Regions from separate parts of the Homo sapiens genome. Here region 2 is linked to region 1. The links come from fine-mapping of genetic effects on gene expression. A gene starts in region 1. The other region holds a variant in brackets. All regions are shown on one strand. Distances are from middle to middle.

Region 1 (9,853 bases):
ATTCATCTGGTAAAATTCCAACTTTGGATGAACCAAACCATCAACATTCTCCTTGCTTGCATCCAACCAGCTGAGCTCTGCTGAGAAATTGATCCCACTAGAAATTTGTAGTCATCACCCCTTAAGTGGGCCCTCAGTATTTTCCTATTATTTCACTACATTCCTCAGGTCTCCTTTTCCCTTCTCCCATTATATATTGTTTTCTTAAACCATCTTGACTACTAAAAATTTTCATCACACGCACACACACAAACACACACACACCACTCTCTGATAACCAGATCTCCAACTCCATAGCAAAAATAAAAACTATCAGACAGCAGCTCCCTACCAAATCTACAAACAACTGTCTCAGTTAAGATGCAGGTTAGGTTGCCCTGACAATAGAGGAAAAAAACTGTAACGAGTTAAGACTGCAGTTTCTTTTTCATGCAGAAGAATCAGGGATGATAAAATGGTTTGAGAGTATAGGAGACCCAGACTCCTTCCATTTTGTCACTCTGCCATCCCTAATATGTTACCCTCACTGCATGATTGAAGGTGGCTTGCTTTCCTATTTACATTCCTATTGCCCTCCCATAGGGGCAAAGAGGAAGAGAAGGTCCATTTCTCTCCTTTAAGACCTTGATGTGGAAGCTGCACATATCACTTCTACCTACAGACACTACCTAGTCATAGTGTGCATTTTTTGCACTTAGCTGCAAAAAGGTCTAGGAAATGTAGCGGTTAATTTGTAGGCCATAACTTATTTTCATCTATAATCATCTTTTTCTACTAATTTCCTCTCACAATTGAGTCTCTACTGCAATCAAAAGCTAGGATCCTCCACTTCCGCTCTGGATTGCATACATCCCTGACTTCTCAGGAACCTTGCATTATTAATTAGCCATTCTCCTGTATCTTTAGTCTTTTTATATATTGGAGTAATTCCATCTGCCAAAAAAATGAAAAAAAGAGAAAGAAAGAAAGGAAGAAAGAGAGAAAGAAAGAAAAGAAAGTTCAAGTCCACCCATCTTAAAAAAAAAAATCTTTCATTTGACATCCTCTTGCAGCTCTATCCCCTTTCCTTAGTAACTACATTTCTTAAAAACTTGTCTGAAGTCATTTACTCCACTTCTTCCCACCATATTCAGTTTTCAGGACATCTACCCTGCCTTCTGCCTCAACAACCTCACTAAAATGGCTCTTTCTAAGGTTGCCAAAGATCTCCAGGTTACTAATTTTGGACCACATTTCTCATTCCTCATTTTGCTTACCCAGGAGCAGCATTTGAATGAGTTCACCAGTTTCTTCTTGCACCTCTTCTCTTTTAGCTTTTATGATGCTTCACTCTCTGGGTTTCCTCCTGTCCCTCTGTCTACTCTTTCTTGGTGTCTTTTGCAGGCTCATCTTTCTCTATCCAGTCTTTAATAATGACCTCTAAAAGTCTGACTTGATCCTTCATTTGTTCTTATTCTACACACTCTAATTCTGTGGTTTGCATTACTTCCTATATGATCTGTATATTTAGCTTCCTAATGGAATTCTACTTAGGTATCTAATAGACATCTGAAACTTAATATGTCCAAAACAGAACAGATTTGATGGTGGGAGTTTCTCTGTGCTAGTTACTATTTTCTCTATGAAGTTGGAGTCTAGGTTGAGAGTGAAGAATGCTCTGTGTCTCTGTGTGTGTGTGTGTGTGTGTGTGTGTGTGTGTCAGGGTGGGAGAAGAAATTAGAGATTTTATGAGACGAGAAAATTTAAAAACAATATTGTGTAAAATGAGAGAAAGAAGGTAATCAGGGAAATTTGGTAAGACATCTACTCATTCTAAGCAGCACAGTATGAACAACTGAATTCTGATTTCCAAAATCCCTGACTTTGACTTCTGGCTCTTTCACCTAGTAGCTTTGTGGCTTTGGGCAAGTTACTTAAACTCTCTCTAAGCCATAGTTTTTTCATCTAAAATAGTGATCAACAATATTGGACCTAAATTCATGGTTCTTCATGAAGATTAAATGTACTTACAGGTAATGTGCCTTGAACATCATAGGTGATCATCAAATAGTTTATATTGAGTTACCAGAAACCTTATTCATTTTTTATCTCATCCTTCTTTCTCACCCTCCACATGCAAATTATCTTTAAATTCTGTTTCTACCTCCTAGATAGGTCTTAGATCAATCTTTTCCACTACGTCCATGACTTTAGGTCAAGCCACTACCATCTCTCACCCAAATTACTGTCATAGACTCCCAATTGGTCCCACCTTTTAAGTTGCTCCCCACACTAACTCCACTGCAATCTTTCCAAATCTTTCTAAATCTTAACAAATTTCCAATGCTCCCAATTCTTCCTTGCATGGCTTGCAAGAGTCTGCATTTGCTGCCTCATGAGATAGAAGGTGTATGATTTGTCTGTTGCTGTTGTAATAAATTACCATGAATGTAGTGGCTAAAAACAACACCCATTTATTAGCTCACAGATCTATTGGCCAGAGGTCTACACAGTGTGGCTGGGTTCTCTGCTCAGGGTATCAGAAATCAAGGTTTCAGCCAGACTGAATTCTCTTCTACAGACTCGGGGGAGGACTGAAGTCTCTGTTCTTTTGCTGGCTGTCAGCTAGAGACTGCTGTCAACTAGAGGCCACTCTCAGGGCTTGTCCTGTGCCCTCCTTCACCCTCGAGCCAGAAAACAGCCACCATTCGTTCCTTGCCACATTATCCCCTCCATCTTCAAGCTATCAACAGTGTGTTGAATTCTTCTCATTCTTCCAATCTCTTTGATTTCCTCTTCTGCTACCAGCAAGAAAAAAAGAACCCTTGGCTTTTAAAGAACTCATGTGACTTGGTTAGGACTAGCCAGATAATCTGTCTATCTTGAGATCAACTGATTAGTAGAATTAACTCCATCTGCAAAATCCCTTTTGCCATATAACATAATTGTGGGAGTAGTATCTCATCATATGCACAGGTCCATCCACACACAAAAGAAGATTATATAAGGGTGACAGTCATTGGTGGTCATCTTCTAATTCTGCCTACCCAAGGAGAGGAAGCCAGGGGAAATATCCCTGAAGAATCGTAGCTTGAGCTGAGATCAGATGGATGAGTAAGTGTTAACTAGGTAAGGAAGGAAAGAAGAAGCTTCCAGAGAGCATATGGAAAAGTCATGCAACTGAAGGACATATAGCAAAAAAAAAAAAAAAAAAAAAGAAAAGAAAAAAGAAAAATAAAAGAGAAAAAAGAAGGAGTGACCAAAAAAAGGCTAATGTGTTTACAGTGGAGAGAATAAGAATCATTGTGACTCTTATTTGAAATAATGTGATTTGAAATAATGTGGCTAGAGAGGTAAGTGGGAGCCAGGCCTCACAGGCTTTCTAAATTCTGTTAATATGTTTTCTCATTCCCAAAAGCAAAGGTCAAAAGAGTGGGATAGTCAGATTTGTATTCTGAGCATAGTACTTCGGCTTTAAGGTGAAGTATAGATGTAGAGAGGCATCAGTAAAATGTGGTGGCCCATTTAGGAGGTTAGGAGTGTGGTTCAAGAGTAGGGTAATATCAGTGGACATATAAGCAGGCAGATTCAAGGAACACTCAGTAGCTAAAATGAACAGGACTTTGTGATTGATTCAATATGGGAGTGATGTAGTTATGTTCCCCAGGAAGCAGACTCTCAAACAAAGATTACTGTGGAGGATGTTTACTAAGGAGCGTTCTTGGAGTTAACACCTGTGCAAGAGAGAGGATGAAAATAGGATTGGGCAAAAGGAGAAGCTGAGTAGTAATTCAGTCCCAGCAAAGACCTCAGTCAACCATATGAAGGGTTCTAGGGGTGTGAGCATCTTTCAGAGTTGTCCACCACTGGGTTGAGGGGATTAAACTTTTATACCTCTGTGCTGATCGGTCATTGGATATAGAATGCCCAAGAAAGGGAGCATAACCTTGGATGAGCTGGCTTTCTTCTGCTTAGGCAACTCCTGAAGGGTTATGACAGCTGAGGGCCATCTTTTAGGAGCACTCTCCACAGCTGGAAAATAAATCCTCCATTTTTGAAGAGGGTTCTGGGCTTTGCATCACAGCATCCAGCGCAGGGGTGAAGGAGCATAGGGGAGTAAGGCATCAATAATAATTCCTAAATTTCTGATTTGTACATCCTGGTGGGTGCACTTAACGACCATATATTACAATCATTGGCTTGCTTGGGAAAATCCCACTAGAGTAGGTGCTACTGAGGGGCAAACTATATTGGACAACTAGTGCATACCCCTAGAACTGGCATAGTTTGCTAAATAAGTGAATGTCCATCTATTTCTATTTTCACTCCCCTCTCCCTTACATCCTTTGCTCCCTTCCCTCCTCATCGTACTGTCATCCAATGTGGGAAAACTTGAGCAGGTTATCTGAGGCCCCACCTGTGCTGGAGCGGAACAAATAGCAAATCAAGCTCCTCTGGTCCAGGCTCTCTGATGGGCAAGACAGGCAGTACCAGGAGGAAGGAAAGGGGGAGCAGTTGATGACATCTCAGGCATAAACTGTCTTTCAACTCTCTTTCAATGCTTCAGCCCCTATAAACTCAGGGCTGGCTGAACCAGGTCCTCTCCAAAAGATTAATTGGATAAGGGCCTGCTGAATCCCCCATAAAGCCAGACTCCATTCTCTAATTTGCTCTTCCACTGATGCCCGCCCCCAACCTCTTACAGCTACTGCTGGGGGTCAGAAGAATTTCACATCGTATTGGAGTTCATCCGGAATCTGAAGAATGGATAGGAATCTGGAGATAGGAATCTGGAGATAGGAATCTGGGGAAGAAAAGGAATGGATAGGAGAATGCATAGGGAGCAGGGCTGAAATAGTAGAAGAGGCAAATCCTGCCCCGAGAAGCTGAACCCAGTTCAGTCCTGCACCCTTCAGCCCTGTTCCCGCTGCACCGCAGTGACCCAGTCCCCTTCTAGCCCCCTCTCGTGGGAACCTGACACCCTACACAGGCAGCTCTGCCTGCACTGAGAGCAAACAGGGAGCGTTAGCGTGTCGGGTGGGCGTGGGCGCTGCCTGGAGACGGTGGAGAAAGCCAACCTTCTCCTTCTCTTTTGCCTGCGCTGGGCCGGCGTTAGAATTATATCCCATCCTCACCTTACTCTGGTTTATCCTTGTCAGTGCTTGCCACCACCCCCAACTGCCCTCAACACTCAAGTCAGAAGCTTCCTCCCGGGAGCCCTTTTCCCTGGCAAGGCTTCCCTGGAGCCAAATCTCGGCCCCGGCCCCACCCCCACTCCCGCCCAGCTGTGGAGGGCTCCTTGGGACCCTTAAGTGCAAGCCTGAGTGTTAAGCCTCAGACAGGAGATGGAGGGTGCGGAGACAGATGCAGGAGCTACCCCAGGCCCGCAGCGAGGAGCTGCAGGGAACTACGGTAGCAATAGTGTCACGGTCACTGCGGCCACTGCAACACAGTACGGTAAATGCGGCTCTAGGCTCAGACTAAAGCATCCGCGCCTCAGCAGGTGACGCACGCAGACCTGGTCTCCAACGCCACCTCCACGTTCCCTGATACACCAGAGAAAGATGCTGGATCCGTGGCAGCCGTCTCTACCCAACCCCTCCTACCCTCCCTTCCCCGAAACCTCCCCCTACGCTGCCAATACTCTTGTCTTCAATCTCTCTCTCTCTCTCTCTCTCTCTCTCTCTCTCTCTCTCTCTCTCTCATTCCTGGGAATCGGGGGTGGGGGCGGGTGATAAAGAGAGGTGGGCAGGAGAGAAATCTCTAAGAGGAGACGGGACACATCTAGGGAGGGGGCGAGCCTGGAGGACAGTCGCACAGGGAGGGGCAGAACTCCCGAGCCAGGGAGGGGGTGCACAGTCACCTGGCGGGACAGAGGCTGGCGGAGGGACGGGAACCCAGGCGGGGCGAGCCGCGGGAGAGTGGAGGGCAGGCGCCTGGGCTGGGGGCGGGGACCAGGCGGGGCAGGGGGCAGGGAGAGGAGGGCGGCGGGAGCCTGAGCCGGAATCGCAGCGTGAGCAGGTGGAGCCGCGTTGGGAGCCCGCCGGGTCGAGCTGAGTAAGGCGGCGGGCTCGGCGGGGGCCATGGAGCTGCTAAAGCTGAACCGGAGCGTGCAGGGAACCGGACCCGGGCCGGGGGCTTCCCTGTGCCGCCCGGGGGCGCCTCTCCTCAACAGCAGCAGTGTGGGCAACCTCAGCTGCGAGCCCCCTCGCATTCGCGGAGCCGGGACACGAGGTGGGTGCCTCCCTCAGCCCCCCCCACAAGCTATTTCTCACTGTACCCCAGAACACTAATAGAGTCCCCCCAACGAGCTCCACACTACCTTCTCAAACGTCCACACCGTGCCTCTCATAGTACTCCCTCAGCCCCCAAACAGCTCCCCTCACACCTTCACCCCCACAGCCTACAACTTCATCACAGCTTCACACCACCTGGTCGGAACTCCTTCACATCCTGGTCCCCTGAATACACCTAGAGCCCCTGCTCACCCCAAAGCACAGCCCCTTCCCCAACACGCAGCCCCTCCTAGACACCAGTCAGAAGGCGAGGACCTCCTCTTGCCAACCCTGCAGATCTCCTTTTCCCTCTTACATCCAGTTCACAGAGCCACAACAGAGAAGGGAAGGAAGAAAGGAAGGCAGGACTGGGAAAAGAAGGGGGCTGGTTGAGGGAGGGAGCACTCTGGAAAGCTTGAATGCGAAGCTGAAGTTGTGATCACATCTGACACCCCAGCCCCCAGCCATCCCAAAAAAGATCCTCAAATCTGAATTAGGCTGGACACTAGGGGATGCTCCTTAGAGCTGCCTGCCTCCATTTCACTCCTTCTCAAACCCCTCTGCCTCCCTAGTTGGAGCTTTCGAGGCTCTGTGCCCTCTCTCTTTGTCTGCAAGTAATGTCTCCAGCTATCTTCCAAGCTCTCTCTCCAGCCCTAGGCTAGGTGCTGGGGGCACAGGGCAAACTAGACCCAGTCTGGACCCTCATGGCCCATAGCCAAGTGCAGAGAGAAACCAAGCAAATGGAAAAATCACAGACACAATGGAAGTCCCATGAAAGGGTCTAAACTGTGGGCACCAAAAGAACTTCACAGAGGCTAGAACCTTAGAGCTGGGTCTTGAAGTTGAGTAGGCAGAAAAGGAAGGAGTGGGATTCTAGGTGAAGGAGCAATGTTAAGCAGAAGGAAATTTTTCTAAACTCAAAAAGGGAAAGTTGGAATAAATTGTAATCCAAGTATTTATTTACCCCACGAAATAATCTATGCTTTCTCAGCCGAGTTGTTACACACTCACACTTGGATTCTGTCATTCAGCCAATATTTATTGAACCAGAGATTGTGCTAGGCAGTGGGAATGTAAGTTGAACAAAACCGACACAATTCCTACTTCACAGAGCTCAAAGTTTAATGGGCGAGACAGAAAAGCAGGGGATTGCAGCACAAAGTGGAAGAGCCTTGACAGGGAAAAGATAGTGGGAACACAAGTGGAACACCTCTAGCCCAGCCCAGCCTCCTTGAGAATTAAAGTTGGCCTCTTGAGGAAATGAGCTACAAAGTCAAAAAAATTAGGGAGGCTGGCTCTAAGCTTCCTGTTGGCAAAAAAAAAAAAAAAAAAAAATATATATACACACACACACACACACACACACACACACACACACATATACATATGGGAGAGCCAGCCAAGTGAACGGGCAGAAGAGGCAGAAAGCATCCCAAATAAAAGGACAAGATGTATAAGAAGCTCAAAGTTTGAATTCATGGCACTTTTATCCACTGTGACATAGTTTTGAGTGACTAGAACATATATCTTAAGAAGGGAATAATGAACAGGCTGGAGACCAGCCTAGAGGGTTTGCAGAGAGCCTGCTAGGCCTGACCATGGAACATGGACTTTCTCCCGAGGGCAATAGGAACTACTAAAAGATTCGGTAGTACTACCAGGATTAGTTCTATAATGTGGAGAACGGATTGGAAGACATAAGATGGAAGGCAGGGGGATACTTTACAAGGTTACTATATTACACTGTTCTGGGTGAAAGATGATGCTAGCTGAGACTAAGGTAATGGCAAGGGAGATGGAGAGAGGTGGATAGATTTGAGAGCCTCTTCTGGAAATGGAATCAACAGATTAGAAGCAGAGAGGATGGAAGAGGTCAAGGGATGACATTCAGATTTCTAACTTGGACAACTGAATGGATATTGGTGCTATAGCAATTGTATACAATGAGAAAGATAACAAAACAGCAGAAACAGGTTTGGAAGAGGGAATTATAAATTCAGTTTGGAACCCATTGAGTTTAAATGTTAGTGGGGCATCCAGGTGAGGTTACCTAGTAAGCTGTTGAATCCAGGGGTCTGGAACTTACAGGAGAGGTCTGAGGTGGAAATACAGACTTGAAGAAGGTCTTTGCCTACAGGATGTAGAAGCCCCGAGAATAGTTAAAATCATAAAATTTTGTATAGAATGAGAAGAAAATAGGTCCTAGGTCAAGACTCTGCATAAGACCATTATTTAAAAGCCAGGCAGAGAAAGGAGAATTTATGAAGGAGATTCAGATGAAACCATCAGAAAGGCAGGAGCTACGCCCTTCCAGAAAGCAAGAAAAAGAGAGTTTCAAGCAGGTTGGGGTAAGTGATATCAAATGCTATTGACATAAGTTACATAAATAAAAAACAGGACAGTCAGAACAGCATCCTTCACATTCAATAACAAGAAAATATTTAGGAGTTGTAGGTATTGAGGCTTGACTATGGTAGGTTAAAGATTGGACTGGTGAGAGAAGGAGTTATGAGAAGTGAACCAAGGTATGTAGCCAAAACTTTCAAGAAGTCTGGTAGGCAAAGAAAGAGAGAGAGAGAGAGAGAGAGAGAGAGAGAGAGAGAGAAAGAAAAGCAGGATATTGCCAAAAATAGCATGAGATTGAGGAAGGGGGGAGTGGGTATGTGCATAGGTTTGTTACGTGTGTGCGCGTGTGTGTGCACGCATTTTAAAACAAGAGCTTTTTAAAATGTTTGTTGGTGATTGGGCCGAGAGAGGAAGATTGAAGGTGCAGATAAGAAAGGGGATAGTCAATAGAGAAGATTCCCTGTGAAAGCGGGATGTGACGCAATTCAGAGCACAGGTGCAAAAATTTGCCTCACTTATCTAAATGCTCCTCACACATTTGGATGTTACCCAGCCAGTCAGATGTTACACACAGAGACCCTGTCAGCCACACTCATTCAGATATTATCCCTGCAGATGCATAGGTTACCCAGGTTCACTCCAATGTTACCAATAGGAATTTGGATGTTACCACTTTATTCTCCTTATATAATCCATGCAGACTTGAGTATTACCCATGTTCACTCAGATAGTACCCACAGAAAGACAAATGTTACCACACTCACTTTAATATTGTCCGAAGTCATTTTGGTGTTACCCATCCATCAAACACTACTCACTTTCATTTTATTATTATCCACACACAACCAGATATTACCTATGCTCACTTAAGTAAGCTTTTCCCAGATACTACCCATAAAATTACAAATATTACTCTCACATACTCAGATAATACCCACAAAAGCTTAAATATTACTTACATTCACTCAGGTGCTCAGTTATTTCATTTACTCAGATTAACATCTTTTTTTTTTTTTTTTTTTTGAGGCAGTCTCCCTCTGTTGCCCAGGCTGGGGTGCAGTAGCATGATCATGGCTCATTGCAGTCTTGACCTCCGCAGGCTCAAGTGATCCTCCCACCTCAACCCCCTAAATAGCTGGGACTACAGGCATGTGCCACCACAAGTGGCTAATTTTTTGTATTTTTTGTAGAGATAGGGTTTTTCCATGTTGCCCAGGCTGGTCTCTAAATCCTTGGCTTAAGAGATCTGCCCA
Region 2 (9,853 bases), 29 kb after region 1:
TCTCTTAATAGAAAAATGGGAAACATTTTATTGGTGGCAGCACATGAAAGTTTATTATTACACAGTAGCTCAGGACTTGTTCTCTAAAAATGTGTAGCTAGAATATATAGGGTTTTAACATGTTGTCTGATGGTATGTATGGTTGAAACGGAGGCTAAAGTCCTGAAAGGCAAAACAAATAAAATGCTGAAAGGTAACACTACCCTGTAGATCTCAGTTGTGTCACTTGAGAAAAAATGAGGATGTTAAAGTCTTAGGTATTTGTTTTTAGAGGGCTTATTTGAAAATTATTTACCTCTTGCATCTGGAGTTTCTGTATACTGAAGCCGCCATCATCTCTCAACTGTGTTATTGTAATATTAATAACTAACTTATCTTTCTGCTCCCATGCTTGCATCCTTACATGTGTTCCCCAAACAGCAGTCTCAGTGAATCTTCTAAAAACTACTAAACAAGTTTTTAGAACTTCTAAAGCCCTAAAATCAGGACTTCTTTTTCCTAATAAGTGGTTGCCTAGGTTACTTAGTTCAACCCTTCTGCTGAAAATAATTTTAAAAAGAAAAACTGGACAAAATATAAGAAATATTTTCTTAAAATCAATAAAGAGATGACAAAACAGTAAGGAATTATCATTTCAAAAAGTGAAGGGAAAGCTTAGAGGGTTTGGAAACCGTGGAAACCACTTTTGCCCTGAAGGCACTTGCATATTCTCCCATTTCTAATATTTGACACCGTCACTGGGGGTCTCAGTGTACAGAAATCAAGGCCAGGGGCTGGCAAAGTAGGGAGTCTCATAGAAGACTGTGGTGGACAGGCTCTAAGCTCCCTCCACCCTAAGTGTCGGGAAAGGGACCTGTGACTTTCATGTAACTGACAGAAATGGCAAACTGATGGGATATCACTCCCAGGGTAGTTATGTTATAAAAGACTAGGTCTTGTTAGTAAACTCTCTCTCCATTGCAAGCTGTGAAGAAGGAAGCTGTCGTAAAGTAAGTGGCCACATTGGAGTAGCCCACATGGCAAGGAACTTAGGGCAGCTTCCAGCAAAAAATTAAAGCTACAGACTCAAGACACCCCATTGTCAGAGGCATGTGAACCAGAGCAACTCCATCTTGAATAGGAGCTGGGTAAAATAAGGCTGGGACCTGCTAGGCTGCATTCCCAGGTGGTTAAGATATTCTAAGTCACAGGATGAGTTAGGAGGTCGGCACAAAATGCAAGTCATAAAGACCTTGCTGATGAAACAGTTTGCAGTAGAGAAGCCGGCTAAAACCCACCAAAAGCAAGAGAGTGATGAGAGTGACCTTTGGTCATCCTCACTGCTACACTCCCGCCAGCACCATGAGTTTATAAATTACCCTATATGGTCTAAAAAGGGGAGGCATGGAAAATCTACCCCTTTTTTTAAGCATATCATCAAGAAATAAACATAAAAATGGCAACCAGCTGCCCTCAGGCTGCTTTGTAACCATTTTTTTTATTCTACTTACTTTCTTAATCAACTTGCTTTCACTTTACTCTATGGACTCGCCCTGAATTATTTCTTGCGCAAGATCCAAGAACCCTCTCTTGGGGTCTGAATCAGGACCCTTTCCTGTAACATCTTTCTGGCAACCACAGAAGGGAATATAGTGTGGAAACCCCCGACCCAAAGGGTAACTTTGGATAAGTGGTGGGGTCCTGTGGCATCTTTCTCATGAGCCACAGAAGGGACAATACTGAGGAGACCCACCAACCCAAAGGAAATAGACCGCAGCACTGATTGGACGACTTTGGGTAAGTGGTGGAGTACGCAGGTAAAGAATGGGATTGGGTTAGAGGCCCAACTTAGGCTAGTTAGAGTCTCTTCCAAAACAGAATGAGTTAGAGGCCCCTCTTAATAAAAGGCAAGGATACTTGACTGACCTTGGGTTAGAGGCCCAACTTAGGAGGGTTAGAGTCCCTCCTAAGATTTAGGGGGTTAGAGGCCCCTCTCAGTAAAGTCCCTCTCATCTAAGAACAGGTTTGGCATTATGGGATGTTAACTGCTATTTTCTTTGGATTAATCTGCCTTGCACTCTTTGCTGATGGCTATGAGTGACAGAATTAGGCACTTACAGGATCGTGGGACATGGGGAGCTTTTTGCTTCCTAAAAGGGGAAACTTGAGAGCTGGTGGGACTGCTGGAAAAGATCCCTTCACGACCAACAAGCGGCCGCCTGAACTTTTCAGGGTCGCTGCAATGGGTGGGTCTTTCTCTGGCCTCCCTGAGAGCCTCGCCTTCCCCACCCTGCCACAAGCAATGCTTTTCTTTCTCTCATTTCTTTTTTTTTCTATTACTCAGGGTGACCATCTTGCCCAGAGAACACATGTTGAAACTCCTGGTCGGAGGTTGGATTTATGATGATAGGGGCAAGTTTGAGCCTTGCCAGTTTGATACTGGGTGCTAAGTAGAGTGGTTAATGTCTATGTTTTGTCACACATATTTTGCTCTGACCAGAACAGAAAAAGATAATTTTCCTTTGTGTTGCGTCTTGGCCCACAGGGCTGTGGTGCAGCCAGACGGGTCACTAGGGACGCTCAGGGAAAGGGAACCCAGAGACCTGGCATGCCAGCAAAAGGATAAGAATGTGTTACCAGTCAGATGCCTGGCCTCTCTCTCTCTGTTTCTGTGTGTGTGTGTGTGTGTGTGTGTGTGTGTGTGAACTGCATGAGGTTTCCCTCTGGTCAGTCATGTCCTTGGGAGCCTGACCTTGTAACCATGTGGCTGTGCTTTCTCTTTTCACAATGGTGGCCCAAGTTTAGGGTGCATTTCTGGCTTACGGATGAATCCTTTATCTTCTGTCTGTCTGTGTATTTGTATGTGTTGTGTGTGTGACGTTTATATCTAAAAGAGCTTTGATTAATTGGTTTAATAGTAATAAAAGCTTAAATCAAATATTTTGTCAGAAAAGTAAAAAGTATAATGCCTTTTAGTTCATGTGACTTAAGTAATCCTCAGAAAATAAAGACAGTTTTAAAGATTATTGGTAAAATAAAAATATCTTCAAAAATGTAAACATTTGGTCTAAATTACACAGGTTAGATATTAAGTTTGCTAAAGGCTTTAAGGTCATAAACTGCTTCTTTGACGTTTAAAAATTGTTCAATTTACCTCCCTTGGAGATATTAGATTGTAGGTAAGACCTGGACACATGTGGAGTTAGCCATGTCCCCTAGCTATGCTGGAGGGTCAGCTCTTATCTGCACTTCTGCCTGGTATGTCCTAGGCTAGGCTCCACACCTAGTACATCATTAAAATCCCAAACTTACCAAGGTTTTCACCAAAAATAAAAGTTGCCAGGAGTTAACATTATAACATGTAATTGAGACTACTGAGGAAACGGTTCTACATGTAAGGCATGTAAAAAAAAGTAAAACGTGTTTTTGGTAAAAGATTATAAGAAGGCATAGGAATGTGGATTTTTTGCCTAAGTTTAAAGGGTCAAAGGATTGTTTTAAGTTAAATAAAATAAAGCTAAAGGTTTGAACAAGTTATCGAAGGCTTGTAAAGAACTAATTGTAAAAGAAATTCTGTGTGTAAACATGTTGGCTAAAGTTAAAGTGGCATTATTCAGTTTTTCTGTAAACTGAACATTGGAACAAAAGCACAACAGGTTTTTCTTAGAGCAAAAACCTGCTTATAATCTGCTCTTTAACAAAAATTTTTAAGGGTTATAAAAGGTTTATGAGAATCTTACCTTATGGCCAAACATTAAAATTTGGTAGATTTGTCTATAAGGTTTTATTAAGAACTGGGTTTGACATCAATAATGCCCTAATGCAACAGTGACATTTGGCTTTTTTGGCATAAAAATCATACAGGAAGCATTATTAAATATAAAATAGTGTTTAGCTTTCTTTGGGCTGTATTTGTATAAATGTGTTATTGGTATGTGTTCCAAAATTATTTTAAAACTCCTGTAATTCTGACAGGACTTAGTGTACGATTGTTACATAAAATCCTTGTGTGCCACAAAGGTACTCAAAATTTCCTAGTCAATTTTGGCTTGACTGTGCTAAAACTTTTTGTCATCCATAAAAAAATTGTAGTCTCGTTTTGTTCCTCTTTAGAAGGTGGTTTACAATCAGCTATAGAGCTATACAGGGGCTCTTAAATGCAGGTTTTCTGGTAACTTCGGAGATTGTGACATCAGAATAGAGGAAAAAAACTTTCAGAGCTCTCACAGGGAGCTGAAATGTTCATGAATATCAAACAAAAGTTAACTGCATAGAGTAACTAAAGAAGTCTGAAGTATCTTCTAAACTTTTTGCTTAAAACGTTTTTTGCTTAAATCCTTTGTTTTGTTTTTCAGAGTCAAGAAAACTTTTTTTTGAGCTATTTACAGCTTTTAGCAATTGAGTAAAGTATACTCCTCCGAACAAAATTTGGAGCTTATTTGTTTCTCTCTACCTGATTTCTCCAGAATTTGGAAACTAGTTGTGAATATTCTTAAGTTATGGCAATATAGGTATTTGCATAAGTGCAATAAGAATGTTTTCTTTTGCAACAGGACACAATTGGAGAAATTGGTTATTTTACCAACACTTTGATTGGAATGGTGTGCTTTTCTTTAAG[G/C]AATCAAACTTGACTTGTAAAGCCAATAAAAGCCCCTTGGGCAATTGGCCTCAGACCTTGTCTACAAGGTCCCCATACAAGGTATGGATAACAGTCCCCATACAAGGTTTCTGACCTGTGGTAAGTAAAGAATGTCACTTTCTAACAGGTCCAGAAGCCCCAGGTTATCTTGCGACCCCAAGAGGAGAGGAATTTATTCAACTCATAGGTATTCGAGGGTACAAACCCATGAAAGGGCTCGGCTCTAAAAAAGTCTTATGTAAGATTCCTTCTAGGGAACAGAGTTCCATCAAAGCCTGTGCAAAAAGAGCTTATGAAAAAAATAATTATTTTTGCTGCACTTTATACAAGTAATCAGGCCAAGCAAAACAAAGCAAATTGGTCTTACCATAACTTATCTTTAGTAAAAATGGGACACTGGAGAGAGAAATTATGTTTCAAGAACTGTGGTACACTGTTTATTAAATTCTAGTCTCATCAGTTGTTTTTAAGTTTGTTTCTGCAATTTAGGCTAACGCTGCTTATTTCTGTGAACCAACCAGAAATCTCTGACTGCTGCTCAGAAGAAACAAAAGGGAAAGGTAATGTGAAAATCTGAATCAGTATTCTAATTCTGGGCATGTACTGGAATCATCTAGCAACCCTATATCAGCTTGGTTCCAATAGTTGCCCAATTCATATAAAGCCTTCTAATTTAGTTTACTTGAGATAGTTTTACTTATTTTGCTTTACTGTTGTGGAATATATTGCTGTTGTACTCTTTGTGTAGGAATGTAGGATAAGCTTACTGAACGTTTTCTTAAACTAAATACGTATTAATCTTCGAGATATCACCTTTTCTCGGAACTCAAAGTTATGATTGGCCCTTGCCATACCAATGCTTTCTGATTGAGTTCCTCTCTACCCTAAACACAAGAGGCTCTAATAGCTAGGCAGGAATATCATCACCCCTATTCAGGTGAAGCCGTTACAAAAGATGGATCGTCATCCCTCTGCAACCTTAGGATTAAGGGTTCTCCTATAAAAGGCAGAAGGGACATGTCAGAGGCATATGAACCAGAACAACTCCATCTTGAATAGGAGCTGGGTAAAATAAGGCTGAGACCTGCTAGGCTGCATTCCCAGACAGTTAAGTCATTCTAAGTCACAGGATGAGTTAGGAGGTTAGCGCAAAATACAAGTCATAAAGATGTTGCTGATAAAACAGGTTGCAGTAAAGAAGCTGGCTAAAACCCACCAAAAGCAAGATAGTGATGAGAGTGATCTCTGGTCATCCTCACTGCTACACTCCCACCAGCACCAATGACAGTTTACAAATGCCATGGCAACGTGAGGAAGTTACGCCATATGGTCTAAAAATGGGAGGCATGAATAATCCACCCCTTGTTTAGGATATCATCAAGAAATAACCATAAAAATGGGCAACCAGCAGCCCTCAGGGCTACTCTTGTCTATGGAGTAGCCATTCTTTTATTCTTCTACTTTCTTAATAAACTTGCTTTCACTTTACTCTGTGGACTCGCCCTGAATTATTTCTTGCGCAAGATCTAAGAACCCTCACTTGGGGTCTGAATCAGGACCCCTTTCCTTTAGCACTACGAATTCCAGCAAGTACAAAAGAAATACACACATAGAGCCATCATAGTGAAGATAAAGAAAACCAACGAAAAAGAGAAAAGCTTCAAAGCTGCTAGGGAAAAATATAAATTATGTTTAAAGAGAGGTATATAACATGTGAGAGGCATGTCTGAAGAATCTGATTCATTAGGTTTAGGGCAAAGCCCAGGAATCTGACTTTTTAACAAACATCCAAGTGACTCTTACCTTTGTGGAATATTGGGAATATGGTTAGGAGGTGAGGATTACAAAGTTGGTCACACCACTGATCAATTTGAGTGAAGAAATATTCCCCACTATAGGAAAGGAGAGGAGAAACTGCAGGCAAGGGGCTAGATCTGAGAAGATGTAACATGGTCCATCCCTAGATAGGTTCACTCACGTTTGGAAGGCACAGATGTGCAGGAAATAAAATTTTAAGGCAAGCCAACTATGATCTCCTTGAATGGGCAATAATGGGCAAAATAGAGGTTTTGACTGTGGGGGTCTGAGAAAGCTTTGTGGAGGAAGTACCTTCTGAGCTAGGCTGCTCTCTACAGCTCTAAAATTCTTCCCAGGTGAATATGAAAAGAGAGTCAAATTCCAAGAATGACAAGTAGTTTTGAGCAAAGGAAGAAAGGTACAAAATGCCAGAGCTGGTTTGAGTAAAAACAAAAAAATTGAGCTATTTCTTCCATACCCGAAGAGAAAATGCTATGCTAAGTGGATGGAGAGGTAGAAAAGGGCCAGGTGGAAATGACTGGACAGTTTGAAAATCTGTTGCAGAGGTCTGACTAAATTGTGGGAGAGAATGGGTAGGTGAGAAGAGAACGCGGACCCTGAAAAATCTACTGAGACCAGGAGCCCCTGAGATAGGCAAAGCCCAAGGTCAGTTCCTGCCTCAGGAGCCCCAATCCCCACACTTTCAAGGGTCACTTTCTGACTCCATAACTGACCAACAAATTCTGAGACTTTAGCTTCAAAATGCCAAAACCCTCTGCTAATTCATTCCAGTGGTAGGGACCCTGTAAGTCCCCTCCTGAAACTTTCAACACTTCTCTGCCTGCTCTAACCCCTGCCTACTCATCTAGCATCTTTCACTTGTTCAAAAGTCCTGTTTGTTCTGTGAAAGGAAAAAATAGAACGGGTGGCAGGTTTTCCCAGTGCAGTTCCCAGCTTGACTTTTCCCTTTGGCTTAGTGATTTGGGGGTCCCAAGATTTACTTTCCTTTTACCGTTCCTACATCAGGAATGATTTCTCTCTTTTCATTAGCAATTTCTTCTTTTCTCCTCCTCTTCATTTGACTAACTTATTATACTTCTTTGTCAGGTCTCTATTTAAAAATTTCTTACTCAAAAGAAGCCTTTCCTACTCCTTTAGTCTAAACTGTCCTCCACTCGTTACCTGTTACGCCCTTCTAATTTTTCGTCATAGCATGTACAAATATTTAAGATTACATGCTTATTTTTGTTGTGGCTCTCTCCTTTCACACAGTAAGCTCTGGGACCTATCTGTGTCCTTCACCACCCTTTACTCGGTACCTAGCCCAGAGCTCACTCTCACCATTAATATTTGTTTTAAAGAGAGAGGAAGGAGAGGATTGCGACCTTAATAACTCTTAGCCCACAGCCTTGGCATACCCCCTTCTCAGGACCCTCTGAATTCTCAAGAGCCTCTTGCCTTTCCTGTCTTCTTCTCTAGAGTGTGTGCCTGGGTTCAAATCCTGGTGTTAATATTCACTAGCTGTGTTACACTGGATAAGTGGTCTATACTGTTTAAATCTCGGTTTTCTGAGGTGATAGCAGTTACCTCATAGGGTTGTCAGGAGGATTATGAGAAAATCCATGTGAAACATCTAACAGAGTACCTGGAAAATTATTGATAAAAATTAGCTGCCATTGTTATTGTCATTAATAACTAGCAATCTCTAAGATTCAAGCTATTGGGTTTTTTTCCCACAAGAAAGTTCTCATTATATATATAAATCTGTGTATCTTTATATATATATATATATATATATATATATATATACACACACACACGTAATATACGTATGTATATATACTTACATATATAAAGAGTTCTTATAAATCAATAAGAAAATACAAGCACAATAGGAAAATGAGCAAACATTATAAACATGCAAATTCATAGAAATATGTTTAAAAATTGTAATGTTATTATCAGAGTAAAAAGGAGAGATGGAGTATAGTCTGACTCTCAGGTACTCCCATAACTTTCCTGCTATAGTTCCTCCCACTGGTGTTGGGGAAGAAGGAAAAGCAGAAAGACAGCATCCCCTTCCTTAGCCAGGTGACGCTGTGCTCCCGTCTCTGTGGGTGGTTACTGCTTCTCTGGCTAACACAGACTGGCGTGATGGCCTCTGTGAGGCAGGTGTCCAGATCCTGGCACTTCTGGAGCATATATGTAGTTATCTGGAGGTCACATATTTGTCTAATTCTTCTCATGCCCCCTTATAATACCCCCCACCAGAAATGTATTTGTAGGAATCCTCAGTGATGCCTCTGTATGCCTTCCATGAGATCCCTTGTATGCGCTCCCTCGTATGCAGTCTCAGTGAGATCTCAGCTCCATTCCTTGGAGTACTTCAACCACCCTGGGACACTGCTGTCACCACCACCAGGGTTTCACTACTCTAGAACTGTGAAGTTTTCCTCCAAATGCAGAGGGAACACCCCTCCTCCCCCCCAACTCTATACAACAGAGATTCTAAATAAGCAAGGTGGTATAGTTATTGTAAGAGAATTCCGCAATAGAATCCTCCAAGGAGATTTGGTGGCTGAAGAATCTAAAGGTCTTCCCCTGGAAGTGGTCCGAGAGCATGGCCCTGGGGAAAGCACTGGGGCTTACATTGCTCACTTCCACCTTCATTCCCCTCTTTTGTTTTTTAATCTTTCCCTCAATTTATTTCCTTCTTAAAAAGATGATTTAGCAGGGTGATCCCCTGGGAATTGTTAGAAATCAAGGCTCTCAAGCCCATCCCAGACCTTCTAAATCAGAACCTGTACTTTAACAACACCCCTAGATCATTCCCATACAAATTACAGTTTGAAAAGTACTGATACATAGGACAGAATTTTTGGATTCTCCCACCCCAGTTATTCACACTTAAGTTCATTTTTGGCCCCACAGCTCCATTCCCTGCCTTTGGCCTGTGGTCTTCACTGCCAGCAAGGACTCCTTGCCTAATTAGCTAGTCAGCCTACAGGGTCTACCGCAGTAGTGCTGCAGGGATTCCATTTAGGCAGCTTTACTTCTGTTCATTTTGAAGCAATGTTGGTATCATCTGCACCAGTAACTCCATAATACCCTCTTCTTCAGGTGTGTTTTAAGATATTTCAGCTGGGCGCAGTGGCTCATCCCTGTAATCCCAGAACTTTTGGGAGACCAAGGTGGGCAAATCACAAGGTCAGGAAATCAAGACCATCCTGGCCAACATGATAAAACCCAGTCTCTGCTAAAATACAAAAAATTAGCCAGGTGTGGTGGCGGGCACCTATAGTCCCAGCTACTCGGGAGGCTGAGGCAGGGGAATCGCTTGAACCCAGGAGGCGGAGGTTGCAGTGAGCCAAGATTGCACCACTGCACTCCAGCCTGATGACAGAACAAGACTCCATGTCAGAAAAAAAAAAAAAAGAG

Which allele goes with the higher level. Alleles are on the strand shown, and positions count from the first base shown. SD is a standard deviation of normalised expression in the study named.
For the expression in tibial nerve of the gene that starts at base 5,972 in region 1, G is the low allele of the variant in region 2 and C is the other (small effect, 0.22 SD a copy in GTEx).

What was found.
Region 2: its variant is fine-mapped to the expression of CCKBR in tibial nerve (GTEx, PIP 0.96).

What each region holds. Positions count from the first base shown.
Region 1 is chr11:6,253,867-6,263,719 of GRCh38, forward strand. It overlaps CCKBR (cholecystokinin B receptor), which reads left to right and starts at 5,972. Exons shown (of 5, transcript NM_176875.4): 1 at 5,972-6,213. The coding sequence starts at 6,063.
Region 2 is chr11:6,282,568-6,292,420 of GRCh38, forward strand. No RefSeq gene overlaps it. Among named protein-coding and RNA genes, the nearest start is that of CCKBR, 28 kb to the left of the region's middle. The variant G/C (reference allele first, on the strand shown) is at 4,598.